Regions from separate parts of the Homo sapiens genome. Here regions 2, 3 and 4 are each linked to region 1. Evidence: fine-mapped expression QTL. A gene starts in region 1. Each other region holds a variant in brackets. All regions are shown on one strand. Distances are between the middles of the regions.

Region 1 (4,000 bases):
CACCTGAATAATTGCACTAGCTAATACTTATTGAGTACTTCCTATGTGTCAGGTATTCAATTGTCCTCTTAAATTTAAGTCTCGCAATAACCCAATAATGAAGAGGAAATTGAGGCTTGTAGGAGTCGTCATCCACAAGGACTCATAGCTGATAAGGGGTGGTGAGTTTTAGATAGCTTAACTCCAGAACACATATGCTTGTCATTCCTCTGCGATACTGAATACAAATCATTCTTATAGTCCAGGGAGGAGGGGTTAAAAGGTCACGAACTAGGAGCTCTACTGAGTCTGACACTGGAGATGCTAGGAGTAAGGAAAATATAATAAGTCTTGAGGAAGCTGGAGATGAGAGATTATAAAGTAAAAGTAGCTGAAGATACAGGATATAAGATTTTTTTTTTTAAAAATTTCTTTTTCCTTTTAAAAACGTTAGTTAAGCATGCATTGCGCTAGGCATTGGGGATAGAAAAGCAATAAAGACAATTTCAGTCTAGTGAGAAAGATAGGTAAATACATTATAATAAATTTTAAAACTTAGATTTGTATGCAAGGTTCACAGAACATTAGAGAAATTAGACATAGACAGAATTTATTAATTCATTTTATTCATTCAGAAGACATTAGTTGAATACCCACTGCATTATGCTTGAAGCTGGAGAAATAAAAAGGGCAAAGTTAAAATCCTTATCCTGAGGAAACTCACAATCTAATGAAGATGCTTCTGGGGTGCTGGTCAAGTAGCAAGGATGGAGCTACAGGAGCACAGAAGGATTACACAGCCTCGAGTGCTCAGACAATGCCAATTTAGTGTTACCTAAGCAAAAAGTTAGGGCTTTGGGTTGGCAACAGTAGAGGATGCTAAAGAGGAGTGCAGTGGACAGGTCCAAAGGGCTTGGACTTAACTATGACAACCCAAATTGTTGCTGGTGGAATGCAATACAAGGGAATATGCATTTTCCTGCAGCATCAGTTTTGTTATGATGTGGAGCATAAAATCGTGCTTTTCACTATTAAATATTTTTACTATTAAAAATAATGTAGAGCACAAAATCGTGCTTTTTACTATTTAAATGCGGATATACTGTGAAGAATGCAATAGCATATGAGATTCATAAAATACGACAGGAAACGAATTTCCACAGCTAGGCTTATGATTTAGCCAGATAGAACAGGAAACTACAAGAAAATCCCACAGCTGGGCATGCAGATGGCTTCGGCTCTCACCCCTGAAGACTCGGGGGGAGGAGTTCACAGTCTTCAGTTCTCCGAGTATTGAGGGTAAGATAGCTGAGGAACAATGAGTATTAAGTGTGCGAGAAAAGCGTTTAGGAGTTAAGCACATGGACTGAAGAGAGGCTAGGGCGCAGGCGACTGGGAACCCGTCATCGTCCCTCTGCTCTCCGGACCTCTTATTCGAAAAACATCCTCCACCACGTGCCCCTTTGTCGCCAGAGACAGCGCCTGCAGTGCGTGAGCTGCCCCCTGAACTCCTGGCGCCTGGTTGCCTGGGCAACCCTCTTCTGGGGCGCCTCCGCGACCTCTTACCATTGGTTTAGACGACGCAGCGTGCGTCTGACGTCATTGCGCGGCGCGACCAGGTTCAGGGGCGGGCCGCGCGGAGCCTCATTTCCCCAAACGCAGGCGCTCGGTGGCGGTAGCCGCGGTTGTTGGCCGACCGAGTGCCGGTCATAAGCCCCCCCCGGTGGGGGGCAGCTGGTGTGCGGATCGCGGCGGGAGAGAGGCGCGGTAGGAACGGGTCCCCGGAGCCGTGAACCGCGGGTACAGGTGTCCTGTCTGCGCTCTCTGCCAAGCCGGCTTGCTTCCTGATCTGTTGCTAGGGCCGCTGGACCCCGTTGCTAAGGACCCTTGAGATCGTGAGCGCTTGGAGTGTACCCCTCCTTTCCTGGGGTAGAGGGTCAGTCGAGAGTAGCCTTCGTTAACCTTAATTGAAACTGGTAAACTCCTCCCTCGGCCCCTTTAAAAAATCTCTGTTTTTTCTTTATTTTTTTTCTGTGTCTTCCTCTTTTGCTGACTTTGATAGCATCCTGGCTCTGGACTGGTCTTTAAGTATCTAGAAGTGAGTGTAGGAGGGGTGGCTGGGAAGGTGGAAAATAGATTCTAAGACCCCTAAGCAGATTGTGCGACCCTAATACTGGCCCTTTGAATTTACTTTCTGGTAAAAAAGGGACTGGGATAAGTGACTATTGGGCTCTGGGTCTTTTAGAATTTGACAGAGCTTTACAAATGGAACATGGTTTCTTTAGTGGGGCTCTTACTTACACGTTTGGAACTTTCTAGACCTGGATTAGAAAGCAGGGCTCTGCTGACTGAGAATTGTTTTAGTTCAGTGGTCTTAAAGCTGAGTACGGGAGAAAGTACATACAGGGAAAGAAATAGGCTATATCAGCTGCCCAAACAATGATAGAAAGTACACTTTCCTACCATTGACACAGATACCGGCAGTCCCTTGTAGATAGATGACCTGTAGCAACCAAGGAAGCTTTAAGGGGAATGTGTGGGCTTCATAGGGTGGTTTGTTTGCTTTCTGATATTGTGACATAGTTTAGGTGTTCGAAGTTAAGTGGATTTATGGATTCTAATATCTATAATTAGAATGTTTATCTTGTTTTGTAAAAGAATGAGCGGTGACCTTGATAATATTTGTAACACAAAATAGTTCTTACAGGTTCGCTTCTCCCCATCACTGCCCCTTTACACCATCCTCTACATGTTATTTAATGAAAAACCACTTGAAAGGGTTACCAAGGATAAGATTTTTAAAGCTTGCTTTCACAAACAACTCATGCTCCAGGCTTGTCAGTGGCATGCTTCCAGGTGGATATTATTTTAAAAAATTGACTACATTTCCCGTCGTCCCTTGGTGTCCGTGGAGAATTGGCTCCAGGACTCCCTCCCTCCCCCCAGTCTCTTTCAGATACCCAAATCCACCCATGCCAAAGTCCTCCAGTCTGCTCTCCGTATCCGTGGTTGGGTCAAATCTATAGATGTGGAACCCGCATATACGGAGAGCCAACTGTAATTTGTCGTTAAGGTAAAGGATAAAAATTTTAAGTGAAAAAGCAATTGTTTTGGAAGGAAATTCTCTAATACAGGATTTTGAAAGGGGATGTAGACGTGTTTGCATTACTGTATGTTTAATGCTGAAAATTATATATTGTACATAAAAGTTGTCCTGTATACTCATAAACTGTAGAAGCTCGATTTTCTACCATGTTTAAAACTTTTTCAAATGAGTTTTGGTGACTTTTTGAACTCATTCAAAATATAATGCAACACCTCCCCATTAGTTTGTTACAGGAACAACTTTTTGACGTGAAGGAAGATAGAAATTTAGCCATAAAATTCCATCCAAAACTTCCACTGAATTGGTAGGTAGTATTGAAAAATGTGCATCATAATTTGATATGGCTGCCTGTGCCCTTGTTATGTTTGTGGGTACGCGTCTTTGCTGTGCATCGCTTTTATCTGTTGCAGCTGTTAACAATTGATGATCAAGAGAAATTGGACCTCAGCTGGTCTTCAAATTGATGTAGCCCAAGATGTTAAGCCAGATTTTTTAAAAATGACAAAACATGTGGTTTCACTATTAGTAATAGTAATACTGAAGAACACTTTGTACCATTGTAAAGAAAATTATAATAATAGCTAAGACTCATGTGGCCCTTACTGCATGCCTCCCATTATGGAAATGTTGTTTTACATATATTCTTACTAGTCTTCATCAACACTTAAAGTAGTTCCTGTAATTATGCCCAATTATAGAGTTGAGGAAACTGATGCATTTTTTTTTTCAATAGAAACTTGTGTTGTTCCCCCTCCAGGAGCTTCTCAAAACAGAAGTCAGGCACAATATTAAATACTTGTTGAATGATCACAGAAGTACAATAGTAGGTTAACATATTTAAAGCTTCTCTCAGCTTATTTTAGACTATTATCTGACAACTTTAATGAGATTTTAATTACCGTAGTATTAGAAAAT
Region 2 (4,846 bases), 44 kb after region 1:
GAGGCCTTTGACAATATTCAGCAGCCCTTCATGCTAAAAACTCTCAATAAACTAGGTATTAATGGGACGTATCTCAAAATAAGAGCTATTTATGGCAAACCCACAGCCAATATCATACTGAATGGGCAAAAACTGGACTCATTCCCTTTGAAAACTGGCACAAGACAGGGATGCCCTCTCTCACCACTCCTATTCAACATAGTGTTGGAAGTTCTGGCCAGGGCAATCAGGCAGGAGAAGGAAATAAAGGGTATTCAATTAGGGAAAGAAGAAGTCAAATTTTCCCTGTTTGCGGATGACATGATTGTATATTTAGAAAACCCTGTCGTCTCAGCCCAAAATCTCCTTAAACTGATAAGCAACTTAAGCGAAGTCTCAGGGTACAAAAATCAATGTGCAAAAATCACAGGCATTCCTATACACCAATAATAGACAAACAGAGCCAAATCATGAGTGAACTCCCATTCACAATTGCTTCAAAGATAATAAAATACCTAGGAATCCAACTTATATGGGATGTGAAGGACCCTTATAAGGGTGTGAAGGACCCTTATAAGGGTGTGAAGGACCCTTATAAGTTCACCCTTATGTGAACTACGAACCACTGCTCAATGAAATAAAAGAGGACACAAACAAATGGAAGAACATTCCATGTTCATGGATAGGAAGAATCCATATCGTGAACATGGCCATACTGCCCAAGGTGTAATTTATAGATTCAGTGCCATCCCCATCAAGCTACCAATGACTTTCTTCACAAAATTGGAAAAAACTACTTTAAAGTTCATATGGAACCAAAACAGAGCCCACATTGCCAAGTCAATCCTAAGCCAAAAGAACAAAGCTGGAGACATCATGCTGCCTGACTTCAAACTATACTACAAGGCTACAGTAACCAAAACAGCATGGTACTGGTACCAAAACAGAGATATAGACCAATGGAACAGAACAGAGCCCTCGGAAATAATACCACACATCTACAACCATCTGATCTTTGACAAACCTGACAGAAACAAGCAATGGGGAAAGGATTCCCTATTTAATAAATGGTGCTGGGAAAACTGGCTAGCCATATGTAGAAAGCTGAAACTGGATCCCTTCCTTACACTTTATACAAAAATTAATTCAAGATGGATTAAAGACTTAAACATTAGACCTAAAACCATAAAAACCCTAGAAGAAAACCTAGGCAATACCATTCAGGACATAGGCATGGGCAAGGACTTCATGTCTAAAACACCAAAAGCAATGGCAACAAAAGCCAAAATTGACAAATGGGATCTAATTAAACTAAGGAACTTCTGCACAGCAAAAGAAACTACCATCAGAGTGAACAGGCAACCTACAAAATGGGAGAAAATTTTCGCAACCTACTCATCTGACAAAGGGCTAATATCCAGAATCTACAAAGAAATTAAATTTACAAGAAAAAAAAAAACCCTTCAAAAAGTGGGCAAAGGATATGAACAGACTCTTCTCAAAAGAAGACATTTATGCAGCCACCAGACACATGAAAAAATGCTCATCATCACTGGCCATCAGAGAAATGCAAATCAAAACCACAATGAGATACCATCTCACACCAGTTAGAATGACAATCATTAAGAAGTCAGGAAACAACAGATGCTGGAGAGGATGTGGAGAAATAGGAACACTTTTGCACTGTTGGTGGGACTGTAAACTAGTTCAACCATTGTGGAAGACTGGTGACTCCTCAAGGAGCTAGAACTAGAAATACCATTTGACCCAGCAATCCCATTACTGGGTATACACCCAAAGGATTATAAATCATGCTGCTTTAAAGACACATGCACATGTATGTTTATTGCGGCACTATTCACAGTAGCAAAGACTTGGTACCAACCCAAATGTCCATCAATGATAGACTGGATTAAGAAAATGTGGCACATATACTGGATTAAGAAAATATGGCACTATACAGCCATAAAAAGGATGAGTTCATGTCCTTTGTAGGGACATGGATGAAGCTGGAAACCATCACTCTCAGCAAACTATCGCAAGGACAGAAAACCAAACACCGCATGTTCTCACTCATAGGTGGGAATTGAAAAATGAGAACACTTGGACATAGGATGGAGAACATCACACACGGGGGCCTGATGAGGGGTCAGGGGGATGGGGGAGGGATAGCATTAGGAGAAATAAATAATGTAAATGACGTGTTAATGGGTGCAGCACACCAACATGGCACATGTATACATATGTAACAAACCTGCACATTTTGCACATGTACCCTAGAACTTAAAGAATAATAATAATAAAAATATAAAATAAAAATAAAGATAGCACGTTTAAGTCAAGTGTGGACTTGT[G/A]TTGTTTGCCTCCCTAGCCCTAGTAGGTCCCAAATTTCCATTTGGTGCTCCATGATGTTCTGTGGAAGTTCACTTCATCTCTGAGTCTAGTGATAGAGCCATGACCTGGGCGAAGTCAGGAAGCACATTTTATCCCTTTGGCCGGACAACTGGATTTGTGGTTGCCATTTGACTAAACCTAGTCCAGGTCTAAGAATGACTCCCCAGACTCAGACTCTTGCTAGGAATGGTAGGACAGAGATGTGCTTCTTTCCTTGCTCAACAGGAGCAATGAATCATGGAGCCAAGGAGCTTTGGCCTCTTCTTGCAGCCCTACAGGGTCCCACCCTTAGGTTGTAGCCAGCCCCATCTCTGGCCTTTTTGTTGCTGTGAACCAATGAAATTACCATTTTTTTTTGTCACTTGGTGTATCCTTTTCTAGTATTTGTGAACAAAAGTATCCTGATTCACATGGTGACATCTAATTCACATCTTCTTGAATACTGTATATCCTGAAACAATTTACATTAAAAGATAGCTATGGTCTTAGAGCACCTCTCTCTTTTTATCCTGTGGGATGATATCAGTAAAGAGTTACTCAAAACAGGAATGATATCTTTTCGTGCAAAAGAAAAATGAGAAACTTAATGTGGCTTATAAGACTTTTGCTCCGTGCTTTTCTGAGTTGTAATTGAAGTCTCAAGTAGGAAGTGACAAACTTAACAACAACTCTCAATGAGTACTTTGCACAATTACTTTACTTGTAAATGTGAAAGGAGGTTATATCTGTTCCCTAAAGTACAAAAAATGATAAAGGGGTGGAGAGGTCTGTACCGAATTCTGGTTTCCATTCTCTTATTATCAAGGCAAAAGGAGAAAGACATAGAGATTTGACTTTATAATAGCCTAGACTTGTTCAGTTGTGGATTCTGTTCATCTGCCAAACCTTTAATGAGTGCCTCAGTGCTGGCCACTATGCTGGGGACAATCCTCCTGACTCCCCTGACTCCCTGCCAATCAAAGACTGCTATGGCTTAGAATGATGCATTTGCATGTAGTTGCCTTACTGGGTAATGAGATGACCAATGTCATTATTAACTGGCTTTGTTAGAAAAATTCCCCCAACTAGTGTAAATTAGTTCAACCATTGTGGAAGACTGTGGCGATTCCTCAAGGATCTAGAACTAGAAATACCATTTGACACAGCCATCCCATTACTGGGTATATACCTAAAGGATTATAAATCATTCTACTATAAAGACACATACACATGTATATGTATTGCAGCACTATTCACAATAGCAAAGACTTGGAACCAACCCAAATGTCCATCAATAATACACTGGATAAAGAAAACGTGGCACATATACACCATGGAATACTATGCAGCCATAAAAAAGGATGAGTTCATGTCCTTTGTGGGGAATGAAGCTGGAAACCGTCATTCTCAGCAAACTATCATGAGAACAGTAAACCAAACATTGCATGTTCTCACTCATAGCTGGGAATTGAACAATGAGAACACACGGACATAGGAAGGGGAACATCACACACCAGGGCATGTCGGAGGGTGGGGGGCTAGGGGAGGGATAATATTAGCAGAAATACCTAATGTAGGTGATGAGTTGATGGGTGCAGCAAACCACCATGGCACGTGTATACCTATGTGACAAAAATGCACACTCTGCACATGTATCCCAGAACTTAAAGTATAATTAAAAAAAAAATCCCCCAACTGATAACTGCTATAGTTAACATCTAATAACTACTGAGCACATATTTGGTGCCAGACACAGAGCCAAGCCCTTTACTGACATTATGACTTTTTCATTTTTACATTATCTTATTAAGTAGCTTTGATTGCTGATGTTTTAGCAGTATGAATGCTAAGGTTAAGAAGGTTAAGTACTCAGCCTAGGGTCTCAGAGCCGCTGGGTGGCAAAATGGAGATTAGATCCCATCATACCAAATCCAGGGCCCCTCCTATCATATTTCTTCTGCCTTTCAGGTTTAAGCAAATTAAGTGGAAAACTCCCATTACCCTTTATCGTAGAATCAGATGGTCTCTCTACTGTACCTCTCAGTATGCTATTGCTATTATTCAAAATGTGTTCATTCCCTAACCATTTCTATTTTCTAGAGATTTCCCAGGTAGCTAATCAATTTAGAAAAGTAACTGCAACAGCCTAGTTTTAAATTTGATTTTCATTCAAACTTTATTAATTTAGCCATTAGTTTTCATTTAAAAGGAAAGGCATTTTACCAACATGCATATCATATATAATCATTACAACTAATTTCCCAAATTATAATCAACGTTCATTGCAATTACTGGTATTTTACATAAATATTATAAAAGCAATGTTATGCATGGTTCCATATCATTAACACCATACTAAATTTACATATAAAATTGGATATAATGTGCCCTAGGAAATTGGTGGTATATTTCTGACACATAAGTAATTTCAAGTAATGGAGTCACTAATAGTTTTTGCCTTACTCATCCTCTGGAAGCCAGCTATAAAAGTTTA
Region 3 (4,846 bases), 78 kb before region 1:
GGACTGATATTGGAATGGCCACATAAGAGAGATGGATATAAAAACATACTATTTGCCTGAAAAAAGATATTCAATTATTTTTTTCAAAAAAATTGTAAGATGAAGTCTATCTAAGATGAAATGTTTTTGTTTTTGTTCTTCTTTGTTTCTCCCTCCCCAATAGAACCAGGTAGAAAACAATAAAAGACAGCCACTCTTAGGCCAGGGTTGGTAACATGAAGGTGTACTATCCAGGACAGAGAAACAACATTGTCTGGGAGGAATAATCCTCATCAACCATGATAAGATTTTGTCTTTGTTTCCCTGTAAACAAACAAACAAACAAAAAACCATGCACACACACACACACATACACACTCGGTCTCTCTCACAGACACAGACATCCAACTATTTATTCATTCTTGTTTAAAATGTCTAAATTGTAATTATAGAGACAATTGTATAGCTATTGTAAATTATTTATTCCCATTGATTACTTCTTTTTTCCAAGGGGTTTAAATCATTCATTAAACAAAGAAACATCTGTGACGATGACGTGATTTAGATTTGTGTTTACAGACATGTATTATCCATATAGCCACTGTTTTTTGAGTGCTTCTTATATGCCAGGTACTATGCTCAGGGTTTTCTATGAAATATCTCATTAATGTATATAAAACCATGAGATTATTGCACTTTCTGCTTTATACATGCATACAGGGCTCATAAACAGAGGAGCTGGATCCACCTCAGTCAGGTGTTCCAGACCACATTGTCTGTAATTAGGGCAACAGCTTAGTAACTACTACCTCTACTTGGGGACTTTCAAGCCTTGGAGCCTTATTCCACAGCCCAATAATTTTTCCTTCTTGATTATGTAGTTTTAAGTAATCCAGACTAGAGACTTTACATTTGCTATTTCATTTTTTAAGGAAAACAAAAGTGAAACCTTCATAGCTTCCAGACTGTGTTTTTTCTCCTTCCTGCTTATAAAGACACAAAATAAAATGACGGCTGTCTGAGATATGAGCTGAATTAGCAAGTTTCTTAGGGGATTGTTTGCCTTGAGATGTCACTGTCTCCTGTGCATGCACCCTTTAAAAATAAATCCAATAGCCAAGTAATTACTAACAAACAAGATAAATTTAGGGTAATTATTCATATTATAAAAGGTTCCTTACTTAGAAGGTCTTGCCAATAGGATTACTTTAAATAGGAAACTATTCCAGAGCATATCCAACAGAACTCTATGCATTAAAAACAAAAAAAAAATCATGCATTTTAGAATCAAAGCTATACATGGAATAATGTGCATTGTAATATGAAATGATAAAGTGGCTAAACATCTCTAATGTATTTTAATTTAAATTCTCACATGAATGAGGCACCATCAGGAAATGCCATAGGGGTCTGACATGTGTTTGATTTAAAATGTGTTCATTGAATAACAACCATCTCAGTCATCTTTGGAATTTGTTTTCACTACAGATTTTCTGAAATTATTTCTAAGCAATATAGATGAACCCCTATTTTTAAATTGCTCTGAGAGTTTTCTTTTTTGGGTGATTTGCTTTGTCAGCAGCAATTCTTTCTGGAGAAATGATCAAAAGACTGTTGAAATTGATTCAGTCCTTAAAGACCTCAAGCTTTATGGTGTCATCTACCTCATGGAGTGACCATTATTTCAAAAATAACATTCACAAGAAAGGAAGCTATACAAGGATAGGAAGCTTCATACAAAGTTTTACATACTTATCTTCATTTTTATTCCTATGTATTCAAAAATCAGTTAACAACACATCTATATTTCCTATCTCCTATCATGTGCAAGAAGCTACACTAAACTTTTGATATACAGTTTCACATGAAACAGACATCACTTCAGCCATTTTAGAGCTTACACTCTATGCAGTTGGGGTTGAAGTTGAAGTGGATAATAGATATTATACAAATGGTCACACTGATACATAATTCCAGATTGTGATAAGCATCCTGAAGGAAGTTATGTGATATTAGAAGAAAGAATAGCAGAGGAATCCAATCAAATAAGTGTAAGGAGGTTTGGGAATGC[C/T]TCTCTGAGGAAGTGACATTTAAACCAAGTCATGAAGGATCAAATAGAGTCTAGGATGGAGGCAGATGGAAGCTTGTGTAAGGATAGGGGTTGGGAGTTCACGCAGAGAGAGCAGCCTGTGTGTAGGCCAGAGGAGGAAAATAACTCATGTGGTCAAGGAAACAAAAGAACTTAGTGTGGCTGCTGTGAGGTATACAATTGCTTCTTGTGTGTAACACAACAGTGACCATTTTCAGGATTTCTTAATTCACCATATAGTCCATATTTTTCTTCTGAGCATCTGTTTGCAGTGAGGTCTCAAAACATCAACAAGAAGGGATTTCCATTTTAAAATAGCAGCTATTTGGCTGTGCCTAATGTAGCTCCTCTAAACTTCCAAATGAAATATCTCTGAGGATATGGAAAATAGAAATACTTGAAGTAGCACTGAAAATTAAGAATAGTAGTGAATATTCATGAACTGAGGGCTGATAAAGCTGGATTGAAAAAAAACAACCGCTGGCCAATGCATGCTTTGAATCTCATGTGCATTTTTCCTGCCCTGTTCATACCAAGACCAGAGACTTGGGAAATGAATCAACTGGAAACGTAGCAGAAAATATCTGTTCATTAGGTGTCAATTAAAATCTGAGTTTTAGTGACATCATGGTGACTGCATTGGGCTGGGAAACCCTAGCCTTCTGACCTCCAACCCACCCTCTGCTCTGTTGAGTGAAAACAATGTATTCCTCTAGATTATTTGAAAACATATCTCTAACTCCCACTGTAAGATAAAATCCAAACTCTTTAGTTTGGTATTCCAGATTACTCACATAGTGGTCTCAAATCGGCCTTCAGTATGTGCTCTTAGATTGACAAATGCTAGGGAGGGATATTGGAAAGCAATTTCTGGGCTGGAATGGCCACCTTGTGGATATGAGATTCATCCACATACAGGTGGTAGTTGAAGCTAAGAAAACGGGCAAGCTAAATTAGAAACACAACAGAATGAACTTAACCAGAAAACTAACCCCACTTTAGATGATCCATTTCTGGAATGAAGCAGTCCCAGAATAGAGAGAAAGAAAGGGGAAGAAAGAAAGAAAGCAATGAGGTAGTCACTGGCTAGTCGTGGGTAAGGAATAATAGACTGTTCTCTTAATAAGTCTGATAACAAAAGAAGAAGAGGGAATGGCAGCTGGAAAAGTTGGTGAGGTCACAGGGTTGTCATTCAATGAATCAATAAGTATTGGTTTATCACCTATAGTAACAGCTTGTAAAGAAGTGGGGCAAGCACTTGAGGTATACTCTGGGGACCATCCTGAGAACCAGGCTGGAAGAGCAAGACCAACCTAAGTCATCCCTTACATAAGCTTGTTGATCAGTGGATGTAAAAAGCAGAAGCCAGATACAGTGAGGTTGAGGAAACAGGATGCCTGAGAGTAAGAAGTCACAAAATCACTCAGAGTGAAGAGAGCAATGTATATGCAAGAATTCTTTACCAAATGGAGTTCTCCATTGCCTTCCTCCTCTTCCCCTCACAAAGGGGATACAGCATTTCAAGGGCTTTGTCCAGAGATATTAAATTCAGCTGAGCAGAGGCATCACCATCGGCATTGGGAATTAGCTTTGTCATTGTGTCAATAAGTGGCCAGCTGAATTTAGATTCAAAAGAGAATCAAAAATTAAAAAGCACACACAAGAAAACAGGGAGTGTAAGAAACAGCCACAGAGACGATTGTCTAGAAAATCTGCTATGATTAATCTAACTCTCCCTTCTTGAAGTGGCTAGAATTATTTTCATTGTTTTTTTCACATAGATGGTTGCAGAGAGATTAAGTGACTTGCCCAAGGTCGCACAATCCAGGTCTCCTGACTCCAGCCATAATGCAATATTGATTTCACTGGAATTGAAAGGCAAACTCTATCAACAACCCCGTGAGATAATGCTGGAGGAGTAAGTATTTCTCAAGGGGAGTTATTTTGGTTTGAAAAAATGCCCATGAATAGCACTCACTTTCCCAATAAAAATGCATTTTTTAAATATCTCCCACTGGGTAAAGGAAAATAAATAGTGCTTTTTAGTGAAATTTGCTTCCAAAAAATGAAAACGGAGGGATGGGAATGTACATGGTTGCTTCAGTATTTTTGGTCATTTTTCTGGTCAGATATGCCTTGATTGAGTGGGCTGACCTGGAGCAATTGAATTCCATTGCTAAGATAGTCACAAGGACAGGACCAAACATGCCGTAGTCCAGTTATATCAGCTGCAAAGTCACATTCTTGGACTCAATCCAGCTCACAGATATTCTTTGTAAGGAAAAAAGAGACAAAGATAAAAAAAAAAAAAGCTATAGAGGAATTTCTATTTGAATGAGCATGTTTGATAATGTCCCTTAACCATAATCTCAGGGGCCTGTGTTATCTCAGAAAGGAGAAAGATGAACATCTTTGAATTGCCTAATCTTGCACTTGCTTGATCCTGCTTGCTCTCTGCTCACAATATTACCATTCAATTACCTCTACCACTTTCAATTACATCTTACCTTCAATTACATCTCTACATTGATTTTTTTCTTCCTATTATTTCTGCGTTAGCCACAATTCTCCTCTGATGTTTGTCAACTCTTTTTCAGAGCTCTGAATGAGCAGGAACACATTTCTGAATGACACGTACAATACCCTGTTTGATTGGGAAATAAATCACTTATCATTTGGCAAAAAAGCACCTGCTGGTCTAACAGTTCAGTAAAGGAAGTAGAAATCATTATATCTCTGTTTCCTCATTTAAACTTGTTTTCCTTTTTTCCCTTTTCT
Region 4 (4,846 bases), 120 kb before region 1:
ACCATCTTGGCCAGGCTTGTCTCAAACTCCTGACCTCAGGTGATCTGCTCGCCTTGGCCTCCCAAAGTGCTGGGATTACAGGCGTGAGCCACTGTGCCCAGCCAGAGTGCTCTTTTCAAAGTGCAGATGTCATCTGGCCATGCCCCGACTCAAAACCTTTCAGTGGGAGCCTATTATTCATAGAATGAAGACCTTCGACCCTGTGGCCCAGCCAGCCTCTGGGGCTCCTCTGGCACCATGTTTTCCCGGGCTCACTCCCCATCTCTTAGGGCTCCTGTTCTTCATGCTGCCTCCTGCAGAAGCCTCTGTCAGAGCTCTTCATTCTCCACTTCACCCTTGCCTCTGAGTCTCACCTCTTCAGAAGAATCTCTCCTGTCCTTCTTCAGAGGAAACAGTCCCTTTCTAGGGCCCCATAAAATGTTCCTGCTTAGCATTCAGCACAGAGGCAATTTTATGCATATAGTAGTCCCCTCGTTATCTGCGGGTGATACGTTCCAAGACCCTCAGTAGATGCCTGAAACCACAAATAGTACTGAAGCCAGTTGCTATCAATCAGAACATGTTTCTGTTCATGTCTTTCAACCCACACACTGAATCCCTCTTCATCCCAAGTAAGCCCTTAGCATGCATGGTGGCTGTAACTTTTGCAGTTTGAGGTATGACAGCAAAACTAGTATGAATTTCTTTTTCCCTTGTTCACAACTTTGCAGAGATAGGAGATTCATTTTTGCGGTAGATCTTAGCATCCTCAGTGTACAATTTTTCTCTCTTTCCTTATTAAGTTAAGAACTTTTACCTTTTCACTTAAAGGAAGCACTTGACAGTTTCTCTTGGGCTTGTCCAAATTACCAACATCACTACTCTTGCACTTTGGGGCCATTATTAAGTAAAATAAGGTTTCCTTGAACAGGATGACTGTGATACCACGACAACAGATTTGATAACTGAGATGGCTCATAAGTGACTGATGGGCAGGAGGCTTCTTCAGCCAGATACCCTGGATAGAGATAATTTACGTGCTGGGTGTGATGGAGCAGAATGGAACAAGATTTCACCAAGCTACTCAGAACTCATGCAATTCAAGACTTACGAATTGTTTATTTCTGGAATTTTCCATTTAATATGTTTTGGCCGCTGTTAACAGTGGGGAACTGAAACCACAGAAAACAAAACTGCCGATAAAGGGGGACTACTTTACTTGGGAAATTACTGAATTAATATCTTTCTCCTCCTCCTCTCATACATAAACTCTGTGGAAATAGGAATAGTTTGTTGTTGTTGTTGTTGTTGTTTACCATTATACTTCTAGCATTGGTAGAGGTCCCCATTCATAGTTGGGACTCAAAATATATGGTGATGTTAAAAATCTGATTTGCTGTTTTAATTATTTGAAAAAGCTATAGGCAGATCATTCTGTAAGTATCAGGGAAGAGCTTTGTAGAATAGTTCTAAAACTATTTCAGTAAGTATGGTAACAAATTTAAACACAAAGATAACAAGATACTAGGAAGGAAGTAGAAATGAAGGCAATAGGAAGGGCCCCTTTGTGTTAAACAAGGAAGGAGCATTAAAAACAGTTAGGTTCAGGCCGGGCACAGTGGCTCACGCCTGTAATCCCAAGACTTTGGGAGGCTGAGGTGGGTGGATCACAGGGTCAAGAGATGAGACCATCCTGGCCAACATGGTGACACCTCATCTCTACTAAAAGTACAAAATTTAGCTGGGCATGGTGGTGCGCACCTGTAGTCCCAGCTACTGGGGAGGCTGAGACAGGAGAATCGTTTGAACCCAGGAGGCAGAGGTTGCAGTGAGCCAAGATCATGCCACTGCACTCCAGCCTGGGCGACAGAATGAGACTCCATCACAAAAATAATAATAATAATAATAAAAATAAAATAAAAATAAAAAAGTTAGGTTCATAGATCTAAAATGAAGCAGAAGGTAAGGCCAAACTCCAGGTATTATTTCTCATAAAAACCATCAAAGTGCATTGAGGTTTCTTCCTCAGTGCAATAATACTCACAATATCAGTACCACAGGGGGCTCTGAACATATGCTGGCACTTTATTTTTACCGCTGAATGAAGTAATGTTATTTTGTACAGCTAAGTGTGATACTCCCTCTGGTAACTTGCTGTCTGCATGATCCATATCTTCAGAAGCATTTTCCTTTTTATTGAAAAAAAGGGATTTTTTTAGAGCCACAGTTAACCTTACACATCTCTAATTCCAGAGCCTCAGTTTACTGATGAAGAACTGAGGCTGAGAACAATAAAATAGTTCTGCAACCAGTCAACTCTCGTATATTGCATACAAC[C/T]GTAGAAGGCCATCCTAGACAATAATACAACTAACCAAATGTCATTTTCCCCAATAAGAACAGTTACTTCCTGAGGTCTCTTTATGCTGATTCACTCTTCACTCCAGAGTATTATCAACTCTGATGATCCAGCTTTTTACTGTTCCACCTAGAAGGTGACCCATAACATTTATCATCCAAATCAGGGTAGTTATGTGAGTGCCCAGGCACACTATTGACAATTACGTTGGGACAACGGGTATAAACCAGGACGGTTGTACAAGCAAGAATGAATGGGCACATTACCACTCCATGAAATTTTTCAGAAGAAACACATTCACAGATATTCAGTAAGTAGCATTTTATCTCCCCTTCAAGAGTGAGTCTGAAAAATCATTCCCATTTAGAAGAGTGGGTATCACTTTTGGCATGCTCTTTCACAAGTTGTAATAGTGTTACTGTAGAACTTGGTCATTTCTTGTCCTGTTGTGTCCCATATATAACCGACAGACAAAATCAGGAAGAGGTGATCTAAGAAACAGATAAAACTCTATACCTGTAATCCCAGCACTTTGGGAGGCCAAGGTGGGAGGATCAGTTGAGGTCAGGAGTTTGAGACCAGCATGCCCAACATGGTGAAACCCCGTCTCTACTTAAAATACAAAAATTAGCTGGGCATGGTGGCATGTGCCTGTAATCCCAGCTACTCAGGAGGCTGAGGCAGGAGAATCACTTGAGCCTGGGAGGCAGAGGTTACAGTGAGCCAAGATCACGACACTGCACTCCAGCCTGACTGACAGAGCAAGACTCTATCTCAAAAAAAACAAAAAACAAAAAACAACAAAAAAAAACAACCTCTATGTCAAAAAGATTCCTCTGTTTACAACATGTAGCACTTTTTCTTAAGAAAGTTCTGGCATTCGCAGATATTGGTTACCAGCAATATTTATTACCAGTTACAGTAGATCATTTACTAACCTCTCTTATCCTGAAGAGGTAACCATAGACCCCTTGATGGACCACTCTTTGTTTTCTCGCCAAAACATACACAACCAACATATATACGTACACTCAGAATGCTTCAACCTCTTATCAACAAGAGATGAAAACTAGAATCATAAGGAAAATTAATTTGCTCATCTGATCAAAAGTGAAATCACAAATGCCAGGCAATGACTGTGTTCCACACTATTGGGAAATTTTAAGGGCCCATGGCTGAAAATAAATAAATAGGATTTCCTGGGATTTAGAGGAATGGGTTGAAGCCAGATCATGGAGTCAAGGCTTGCCTAGGCTCCTATCTCTTGAGAGGCTCATAGACACCAACATTTAACCTATATTCAACCACATTGCCCCAAACCACTCCAATGGATTGACTTATCTTTCTTGATGTCAGTTTAAACGTATTAAGACCTGCTTATAGGGTAATCATTTACAACACTAACTCTGTATAGTCGAATAAAGAATATTTCCAGTTTTCCTTTCTGTCACCTCACACTTTATCATCTCTGAAAGGGAGGCAGCCATTGATAATATTATCTCAGGACCTGAGCCATCACAAAAGCAAACTCAATTCCCCTATTTTTTATTATTTTTCCACTAACTCAGTACTAGCTCTGACTACACTTAAAATAAAAACCAAGTAAAAATGGCATCATGTCCTCACAATACTATGAGGTTTGGGGGAACTTTTCAATATTGGTAACTAAAAATACATTAGCTGACTAATGTTAGTCATTTTATCTCTATTCTTCCTGGAAAACCAGTGCAGCTTTTAGCTGTCTAATTTCCTCTTACTGGTTGAGAAGTAGACATGCAGGCCAGTATTCATCTAAGGAGCTTGCTAAGTTTCCCTTCTTATATTGAGCTCCTGAATCTCGCCACTGTTGCACTCTTTTGAAAGCGGTCCTTCCCTCAAGTATAGCAGAATCCAATATAATTAAGGAAAATTAAAGAAACAGTCCAATGAAAACATTCATGTTAATATTTAGTCAGGGAAAATTCACAGTAATGTTTAAAGAGAATAGCATAAGCTATGTTATTACTAATCATGAGTGAGTAATTAAGCAAAAAATTACACTAATCTCTAAAGGCTAGAATGAAATCTGAGTTGATTACAGGTCAACAAGATAGAGCTCTTGCCTTAAAAAGCATGATTCCTCCTTTTAATGACTATTATTTGAGTATGTCAGCATACCACACTCTGGAAAAAACACAAAAGCAAATGTGGCAAGAATTCTACTCTTAGTGATTTTACAGTCGAGAAAAGAGAGTCAGATAAACACCAGTAATATAAAATGCACACATAACAGTGCAACCCTAAAACCTTACCTTATATGCTTGTAATGAATATTAAGTGACTGCATATTTATACAGTGTTTAAAACTGTTTAGCATACAGTAGTAAGCATGATATAAATGCTCATTAAGTACATAAACAAATATATACCATGTATATGTCATAAGATAGGCATAGTCAAACACAATATAAAATTAGAGATAGAGAAGAAATAGTTGAAAAGATCTGGCATGATTCCATAAAGAAGGGAACA

Which allele goes with the higher level. Positions count from the first base shown, and alleles are read on the strand shown. Sizes are in standard deviations (SD) of each study's normalised expression. Not every link is listed here.
As copies of C replace T in region 3, the expression in liver of the gene that starts at base 1,626 in region 1 goes up (moderate effect, 0.57 SD a copy in GTEx).

What was found. PIP is the estimated chance that this variant, and not a neighbour inherited with it, causes the effect. A credible set is the group of variants that fine-mapping cannot tell apart.
Region 2: its variant is the best candidate, but not a certain one, in a credible set for the expression of PACRGL in prefrontal cortex (BrainSeq, PIP 0.60).
Region 3: its variant is the best candidate, but not a certain one, in a credible set for the expression of PACRGL in liver (GTEx, PIP 0.79).
Region 4: its variant is the best candidate, but not a certain one, in a credible set for the expression of PACRGL in pancreas (GTEx, PIP 0.53).

Annotation. Positions count from the first base shown.
Region 1 is chr4:20,698,833-20,702,832 of GRCh38, forward strand. PACRGL (parkin coregulated like) reads left to right here and starts at 1,626. Exons shown (of 9, transcript NM_001258345.3): 1 at 1,626-1,955. RefSeq lists an enhancer at 1,739-1,858.
Region 2 is chr4:20,742,494-20,747,339 of GRCh38, forward strand. All of the region lies in intron 5 of KCNIP4 (potassium voltage-gated channel interacting protein 4), which reads right to left. It also overlaps a transcript of PACRGL not described here. Among named protein-coding and RNA genes, the nearest start is that of PACRGL, 44 kb to the left of the region's middle. The variant G/A (reference allele first, on the strand shown) is at 2,334.
Region 3 is chr4:20,620,708-20,625,553 of GRCh38, forward strand. No RefSeq gene overlaps it. Among named protein-coding and RNA genes, the nearest start is that of PACRGL, 77 kb to the right of the region's middle. The variant C/T (reference allele first, on the strand shown) is at 2,051.
Region 4 is chr4:20,581,944-20,586,789 of GRCh38, forward strand. All of the region lies in intron 29 of SLIT2 (slit guidance ligand 2), which reads left to right. Among named protein-coding and RNA genes, the nearest start is that of MIR218-1, 56 kb to the left of the region's middle. The variant C/T (reference allele first, on the strand shown) is at 2,317.